2 separate regions of the Homo sapiens genome follow, and region 2 is linked to region 1. Evidence: fine-mapped expression QTL. A gene starts in region 1. The other region holds a variant in brackets. All regions are shown on one strand. Distances are between the middles of the regions.

Evidence for each region. PIP is the estimated chance that this variant, and not a neighbour inherited with it, causes the effect.
Region 2: its variant is the best candidate, but not a certain one, in a credible set for the expression of BIRC7 in whole blood (INTERVAL, PIP 0.79).

Annotation. Positions count from the first base shown.
Region 1 is chr20:63,234,361-63,238,360 of GRCh38, reverse strand. It overlaps BIRC7 (baculoviral IAP repeat containing 7), which reads right to left and starts at 2,456. Exons shown (of 7, transcript NM_139317.3): 1 at 1,916-2,456; 2 at 359-458. The coding sequence starts at 2,264. RefSeq lists enhancers at 2,572-2,691, 3,039-3,640.
Region 2 is chr20:63,162,662-63,167,163 of GRCh38, reverse strand. LOC124904952 (a long non-coding RNA gene) reads left to right here. Exons shown (of 2, transcript XR_007067715.1): 2 at 14-4,314. Among named protein-coding and RNA genes, the nearest start is that of MIR124-3, 14 kb to the left of the region's middle. RefSeq lists a silencer at 1-96. The variant G/A (reference allele first, on the strand shown) is at 1,895.

The sequences.
Region 1 (4,000 bases):
GGCCCCCACTGTCTGCTTCAAGCCCTTGGATCCCCGGGGGTCAGGGTTGGGCCCCCTCCTCCCGCCACCCTGCAGTGCCCGTGGGCATGGGCGAGGAGGGCTGCTGTGGAGACGCCTCCATGGGGCTTCAGGGTAGTCCCATGGGAGAGGCATTTCTGCCCCCAGCAGCCCTTCCGAAAAGGGGCCCTCACAGGAAAAGTGGGTACCTGCCGGCCAGAAGCACCTCCCACAGAAGGGCCTCCCCAGTGCCCTGTGGGGCCAGGGAGGCAAAGCAGGCCTGGTGTTGGGTCGACAGAGCCGTTGGGGGCCCACCCCCTACCCATGATCAGACCCGGGGCCCCGCAGGGGCAGCCGGTACCTGGGGAACCACTTGGCATGCTCCGTCCAGGGGTCGTCCCCGCGCTTCCAGCTCTGCAGGCCCCCATAGCAGAAGAAGCACCTCACCTTGTCCTGATGGCCTGGGGTGCGGAGAGATGCTGGCCCCAGCCAAGTCCCACCCAGTCCCCGGGCCCCCGGTGTGTCCTTCCAAGGCTATGAGAGCTTCAGCTGGAGGGGAGCTCCCAGGTGGCAAGAAGGAGGAGGGGGTGGGCAGGGGGCTTGGTGGGGGATGTCACTTGTACCTCATTAGCATCAAAGGTGAAAAGGGGACAAGGGTGACTGGGGTGCCGGCCAGGATGGGCGAGAATGTTCAGGAAAGGACTGAGCTGGCATTTGCATTGTTCCCAGAGTGAGCAGTGGGGGCCCCCCAGGGCTTGGTACATCTATAGCCCTGGGGCTTCAGGAGCCAGAAGGGCCCCTCCCCAGGTCTCTGCTTCCCCAAGATGGATTCCCAGTGAGAAGAAGAAGGGAGGCTGCCCTAGAAGGCCAGTCTGGGGCCAGGCTTGCTTTTAGGAACTCATGCCTCCCTTTGGGGGTGGGGGACCCGTCATCTCTCTACCTCCTGGCGACCCCGTCCCCTCATCGGCATCCATGCGATACGTCACCTGCCACTGACATCACAGGTTTGGGCTGCATCGGGCACTGGACCTCTACCAGCCCCAAAGACCCCGGCTCTGCACCTGCCATGCCTCTTGCCTGGCCTTTGCCTCCTGAGCCTTGGACTTCCAGGGAGGTGGGTGAGCTGGGCCTGCCCCTTCACGCCACGGCTTCTGACTGTCCCAGCCACTGTCCCCCCGACCAGCTGTCTTAAGTTGGTCCAGCCTTACCAGGATGGTGCCCCGCCAGAGCCCACTGCTGACAATGACCATGGCTGTGCCAGTATTTGTAAAGCCCTCGGTGGGCCCTGCTGCCCTGTCCTTCAGCCAGGAAGTGGCAGAGCTGGGACCTGAACTCAGGTCTGACCACATGGTCTGCAGCTGTAGGGCAGAGGAGCAGGCCCGGGCCAAGACTAGGATAGGTACTCCGGGGACTTGATTCAGTTGGGGAAGACCAGACAGTAGCTGCAGGTTGGGGCCTGGAGAAATTCCCCACAGGCTGAGCATCCAGGACCTTCTGGCTGACCACTGCCTGCCTTGGTCACCCTGATCCTGTTCTTTAAACATCTCCTCTCCCTGTGCAGAACAGCAGCGGGGAAGGTGAGGGCCCCAGGCAATGTCAGCCCCACCCACTTCTATCACAAAGGGGTACTTGTGCACCAAGCTGGCGGCCTCCACAGCTGAGACCCTCAGACTGTGGCCAGAGGCAGCCCCTCCTCACATCCCACGGTCTGAAACACTCAGCCAGCAGAGACTCCGGGGGAGGGTGTCAGGCACGAGCCCATGGGCACTGGAGGGGCTTGCAGGACCACTGCTCCGTCATCAGGCCAGACCCTTCCTGTTGGGGGATGGATGCTACGGAGGAGGCAGAGCCCTGGGCTGGAAGGGTCCAGAATCGTGCCCAGGCCCACGGCAGGAAGGCCCCCCCGCCCGGGACTGACCTGTGTGGAAGAAGCCGGCAGCAGCCAGCAGCTCGGGTGGCACCTCAGCAGTCAGCGGCCAGTCATAGAAGGAGGCCAGACGCAACTCCTCAGAGCCCATGCCGGGGAAGGCAGGCCCCCTGGACAAGGTGGCCCCGGCGCCCTCCTCCTCTTCCTCCTCTGTCAGGGGCCGCAGCTGGCCCAGGATCTGCCCATCCACGTGGTCCCAGGCTCTGCAGGTGTCCAGGCCTAGGACAGGGCTGCCCAGAGAGCGGGGTCCACAGCGCTCCTGCGTGGGACCATCACCGGCTGCCCAGTGGCTCGGCTGTGGTCCACGGTGCAGGCACTTGGCACTGTCTTTAGGTCCCATGGAGGGAACACTGGCTCTGACCAGGTTTGCAGCAGAAATGGGGGCTGATGGCCAATCTCAGAATATGCCCAGCTGGCCCTTCTGGAGCTCCTGACCCCCGGGGCCCACCCTGGGGACAGCAGGGATAGGCACAGGCCTGCCACCAGACACCCTGGGAGGGGAGTATCCCAGGGCCCACAGCTTTCTGGAAGTGGCCAGGGTGGCCTCTGGGGTCACATGCTCTGTGCAGCGGGGGCGTGTCACGGGGCCCCTGGCAGGGTTGCGGATGCCGCTGACTGCACGTGGGCAGGCCACGTCTCTCTGAACAAGACGGGAAGGAACTGAGCATGGAGACCCCTCCCCAGGCTGGTGTCTGCCCCAGGGCTGTGGGGGAGGGGTTGGGGAGCTGGAGATGATGGCTCCAAGGTCAGGCGCCCAGGGCAGCCTCCGGAAGCAGAGAAGGCTCAAGGAAGGACATGTGAGCTGTGCTGCCTGTGCAGGCAGGGGCCGTGACCTCCCACCTTGCGGGGGTGACTCTAGCCTCACAGGGGCCTAGGGCTGCGTCACGCAGAGCAGGGAGGCAGGTCACCCGGCTGTTCTCTGAAACATCCCTCTGCCCCAAGGGGCCTCTGCAGGTCTGGGAGCAGCTCTTGTCCTCAGGCCAGGAAGATCAGAGCAAAAAGAAGGGCCCGAGCTGCCCTCACCTCCCGCTCCCCCTTCCCCCATCTCCCTCCACCTCCCTCCATACCAGCCTCCCCAGGTAGCCAAGGGAGAGGCTCTGATGCCCCCAAAAGAGGAGTACTCAGTGTTGGCACTGGAATCGGAGTTCCTGAGGTCTGCTGTGACCCTGGCTGCCGGTCCAAGCTCCACACTGTGCCACACTGCCAAACCCCACAGTGAGGGAACAGGGAGGAGGACTTAACCCCAGAGAAGCCAGGGGCAGAACAGGAACCCCAGGGACACCTGGGCGGGACAAAAAGGACAGCTGGATGGGGCCCAGACTTCGACACCCCCCAACCCCCGACTGAGCCCTCAACCCCAGCAAACCCAGCTCATCCACCCGGCTGGCCCTAAAAGCCCCCTGTCATCCTTCAGCCACTCTCCCCTGCTGTTCCGTCCTGGATGGGAGCGTGCAGGCTCACAGAGTTTGGAAGAATAAAGAGGAGTCGCACGCTGCAGGGCCGCTGGTTGCCACGGGGAGCGCAGGTGGGCAGGAGAGGGTTAGCTGCAGTGAAAACCGTCCCTGAGCTCACCTGGAAGCCTGGCCCGTTCTCTTCCCACTGCTGAGCCGCATAGACCCAGCTGCTGCCCACCACACTTTCACACCTGCCCCCCGACCCCCACTCACGGCGGGGGCTGGGGCTGCACCCGCCCTCCCAGGAGGCCTCTGGTGACTGTTCTGGTCATACTCAGGCCAGTGTTGCCAGGCCCCAGCGAGACCCCCAACCCTTTCCTATGCAAGGCCCAGAGCCACCTGGTTTCCTGCAGAAATCAAAGTGAAGGGTGTGGCTGGAAACCCCTCCCAGGCTCTTAAGGCCTCTGGGGTGTCTGCAGGCCCTGCTGAGGATAGAGCCCAGAAGCCAGGGCTGCAGGGCGCAGAGGGAGAGGCAGCAGGAAGCTCAGGGGCATAGGAGGGGAGGGCTGTCGGGAAAGGGCCTGAGGGCCAGCAAAGGAGTTAGGCTAGACACAAGGTAGAACTTCCCAGTGTGTTTTCTGGGATGATCTCAGGGTACCTCGCCTTCGCCCCCTCTCTGTCC
Region 2 (4,502 bases), 71 kb after region 1:
CTTTGTTTCACAGATGATGAGACTGGGGCTGCAGGAGCAGCCGATTCCCAGTCTTCCCCTGCAGGAAAGACCGGGAGGCTGTCCCCGTGGTCTCACCGGCCCTGTGCATGGTGACCTGGGCCTCCAGGGGAGTGGCCGGGTGCCCTGTTGGATGTCCTGTAGCGAATTTGTCTCTGGGAGAAGAGCAGAGAGATGAAGGCCTCCATGCCACAGCCCAGGCCGTGCACATTTGTGTTGACCTTGGCCACAGGCCGACGGCGCGTCTGCGAGGTCTCTGCATTGCAAGGCCCTTCTCCTCCTGAACTGAAGGCCTTCTTCCTCCTTTCCCCTCCTGATTCTCTCGCCCTCCTGGTGCATCCAGGTGCCCGTGATCCTGTTCCCGTCCTCGGCGTCCGGGGCTCCGTTCTTTCCACCTGGCGTGTCGTTCCCTGAGCTGGAAGCTCCTGCCTGGGTCCTGTCCTCCTGCTGTTCCTCATCCAAAGTTTCATGGACACCAAGACAGGCAGTGCCCTCCACCATAAGCTGGGGAGCCCTTGGGCCCTGGTGTCACCACATCTTCTCAGAGACCTCCACCTTCCTGGCTTCTCCCTCTTCTTCCTTCCGACGTCTTTGTCCTGCAGACAGCCTGGGTCTTGCTCTGGGTGAGGCATCCTGGAGCTGAGACCTTGAGGCCTGACCTAGTGGTGCCCCTTGGCACGGCCCGTTCCTGACAACACAGTGGTGTCACAGGATTGATTCTAACGCCTCATGCTCCCTAACAGTGAAAGTGACAGTCAACTGGGCCTGTAGCGTGTTCAGAGGAGCTGGTGAGGAACCCCCTGGAGCCCCGGAAAGCTGGATCTAGTGCAGCCCCGCACAGCCCTGGTGGAGGCCAGCTCTGCCGTTTGCCGTGTGCCCTGGGGTGCATGCTGTCTGAGGGTGCACCCTGTGCATGACATGGTGGCAGCCCCCACCCTCCCATGTGGAGGGAACAATAGCAGTGAAGACCCAGGAGCCACCGGCTTCCAGGAGGAGGCCCTGGTCTTTCTTCAGAGCAACTTCGAGGTGCGACCCAGGATACACTTTGGGAAATGCTGGCCGATGGGCAGCCCCGGCCTCTGGTGGAAGTACACGTCCCTCATCCCAATATAAGTGCGTGCCACCTCCTTGTGCGGATGCCCAGGTGTTCACTTCCCTGTCCATGGAGCATACATGAAGCACCTACTGAGTGCAGGGGCACCACAGGTGTTGGGCAGAAGGGGCAGCTCGAGGGCTTTGGGGCCGGGGAGGGACAGGAGGTGCTCGCTCTCATCCTTCCTTGAGTGGGGCTCTCTCAAAAGCTGGGTTCAAGGGTGATGCCTCCCTTGTCCATTGTAGGCCTAATGGAGGATTCGGGGCAGCAGGACCCAGAGAAGTTGTCCCTGGCCATGAGCTTGGCCCTGAGCTCTGTGAGTGGCTCTGCCCTCCCTGCTTGTCCAGGTGCCTCCCGCATCCCAAGCTCAGGGCAGCCCGGGTCTTTCAGTTCAGTGCTGAAGAGAGTGGCTTCCATGTGTGCCCGCCCTCTCTTCGGAAGGCCGCCTCTGCTCTGAGTGTGCGGTGTGGGCCCTTGCTCTTTAAACGGTTGCGGCGATGGGTGGGTGAGCATGTGTGGGGGCCACAAGCTGAGTGTGGGGTTCGAGAGTGACCCAGGTCGGTCCTACCACCTGGAGCTTGCAGACGGGAGCCCCAGGTGAGAGTGGGGTTCCTCCCAACTAGGGGGCAGTGGGAGGTGCTGGCCGAGTCTGTCTCCCATGAGGGCCAGGCCCAGGTGACTGTTGATGGTGAGAGGGGTGTGGCCGCTCTCCCGAGAGCCCACAGTCAGTGGATCAGGGGCGAATGTCTCAGCCTTGAAGGTGCCTAAGGACCTTGCTCGGCT[G/A]TGGTTGAAAACCTTCTGCAGGCCAAGCAAATGGGAGCTGCAGCAGGGAGATTAGGCAGCCTGCGGGCCACGGGATGGGCTGCAACAGGGAACCTGGGGTCTGCTCCTGGGAACACCTTCCTGGGCTGCCCCCACCCGGCCGATTGGACCCAGGTGGCGGCTCTAACCCGTCCTGCCCACCGTGTGGGCCTGAGGTGCGTGAACAGGATCCAGGTCCATGGCCGCTGACTGTGTTCTTCCCGTGCATTCCTTGCCACTAACCCTCCCACCCCAGACCCCTCCACCTGAGTTCTCAGCCCTAAGGGCCCGTGTGTCTCTGCCCCCAGAGCCAGGCACGGGGCCAGCACCCAGAGTTTGTGGCCCTCTTTGGCTACTGATTCATATGTCTGGGACTGGGTTCTGGTCAAGGGGACTTCCTGAGAAGCCAGTGGCGGTTAGCTTCCAGCTTCGGGGTCCCTTCTTGCACGGACCTCTGCAACACCCTGCACCCAAGTTTTGTGAGGCCCACCATCCTCTGGGCCTGGGACTTGAGGCATCCCAGCCTCTTCCCACCACCATGTGGGGCGTTAATCATAGGGTTGACATTCTCCCCGCTGCACACAACAGGACGTCCACTTCTGAAGCTGTCAAAAGAGCTGCGTATGATTCAGGGCAAAATGGAATTCTCAGAATCCCCAGAATTCACTGGGGAGAACAATGAAATGAAGGAGAAATATAATCCAGCAAAGACCCTGCTAGCCCCCTGGGGGTTCTGGCAGAGCCGGGGTCCCTGCCCCAGCTTGCACCCCAGGAGTCACGTGGAGGAAGCGAGCAGTGCCTCCTTCATGCTTTCTGACTGCTCTGGCCAGAACCCCACTGCAGTAGATGAGAAACTGCTGCAGAGCCCAGGAAGGAGATCCTGCCCTGGGCTGGCCCCCAGCTTTCTCCAACCGCCACCCACAAAACTGGTTGTGCCTAGATGCTCCCAGGGGTTGTGAGGTCATTGCCCAGATGTGTGTCGGCCAGGCCTGTGGTCGCTAGTTGGTAACTGTCCAAGGGGGGTAACTGGACCATCTCCTGCAGGAGCTGCTGCACTGTGCCTGGTCCCAGGTAGGAATTCAGGCCTTGCCAGGGCACCAAGGGACCCACTGTGGGACCAGCGACCTGGCTGCCTGCATAGGTGGCAGAAGATTTCAGTAGAAACAGCACCAAGCAATGCCAGGACCCCTGGGCCAGGTCAGGATTAGGAAAGCAAATTGGACCTGTTAGAAAACTCCGGGGCCAGCAGGAAAGCGGGGAGCCTGCCCTGTGTCAGCCAAATGGTTAAAGGAGAAGAGTAGAATCCAGGGGAAATCAAGCCGTCAAGTCGTTAATTGACTTTGCCTCAATCAGCCTGATGCATATTCATGAGGCGCCAGCCCTCCCCAGGCCTGTGCAGCAGTGTGCTCCCCTCTGTCTGAGCTGCTGTGACATGGTGGCTCCCGCCTCCGCCTGCCTGCAGTCAGCCTTGATTGGCCCAGCCGCTCTCTTGAAAATGCCATAGCAACCCCTGGCTGGTTGCCTAGCAATTCCTCCCTTTTCCCTTTTCCTCCCCTAAAGCCCAAGCGAGTAGTCCACAGGCTTCTGGTGGAACATGTCTCTGTGCCATGGCAAGTGCCTGTGTGTGTGTGTGCGCACTCATGTGCGTGAGAGGACAGATCCGGAAGGGAACACTTCCTGCCAGCAGCGTCTCAAAGACTTGGGAGTGCACCTGCTGCCTGTCTCGGTACCAGCTCACCTGCTCAGGGGTAGGGGACATGGGGGCATAGACCCCTGGCCCTGGCAGGGCATCCTGTGCTGCTCACTTCATTATCACCAACCAGGATCCCCAAACCTGAGTCACTGGGGAGCCGTGGCCGCCATCAGCATGGTGGGATGGAGGGTTGGCTTTCAGCCCTCCCAGGTTCCTTGATTCTGAAGCAAAGATGACTTTGATGCTCAGGCCCCAGCCAGCGGAAGGACAACAGGCTTCTGCCATTCCATGGACCAATGTGGGTCCAAAGGGTCTACCATTCTGCACAGGGCCAACTTCAGGGCAGCTGTCCGGGGCTGCAGATGCTCCCTCACAGGCCAGGTGGGGCTTTCAGCTGTGACAAAGTCTGGATGTCCACCCCTGGTGAAGCCACTAGGAGGCTGTGGGGGAGCCGAGGGTAGTGTCCAGGAGCCATTGAGTCCATCTCAAGGCTCTCTCTCCTCTTGGATAGTGTGTGCCCGTGTGCATGTGTGTGCCTGAGCATATATAGGGTGCCCTCAGAGAGTGCATTGGGTGATGATGACTGATGTGGGCAGTCTTTTCTTTGATCAATGGAAGCAAAATCATTTATGGCCCACGCTGAGCTTCCTTCTCTGGTTTCCTGTTAAACACAGCAAATGTGTGTCTCCAATAAAAAGCTACACAGCAACTTAATCTCTGATCGATTGCGAGGAAAGGAAAATAAAACCCTGCTCCCTGGGGATGGGCAGCCTCTAGGCAGTTGTTCCTGATATAGAATGTGGGCAATAAATGCATTAAATATAAATGGAGTGACGGAGAAGAGCGATAAACCCTGGTTCCTCCACGCTAATTGAAAACCACGTCAAGGGTTGATGA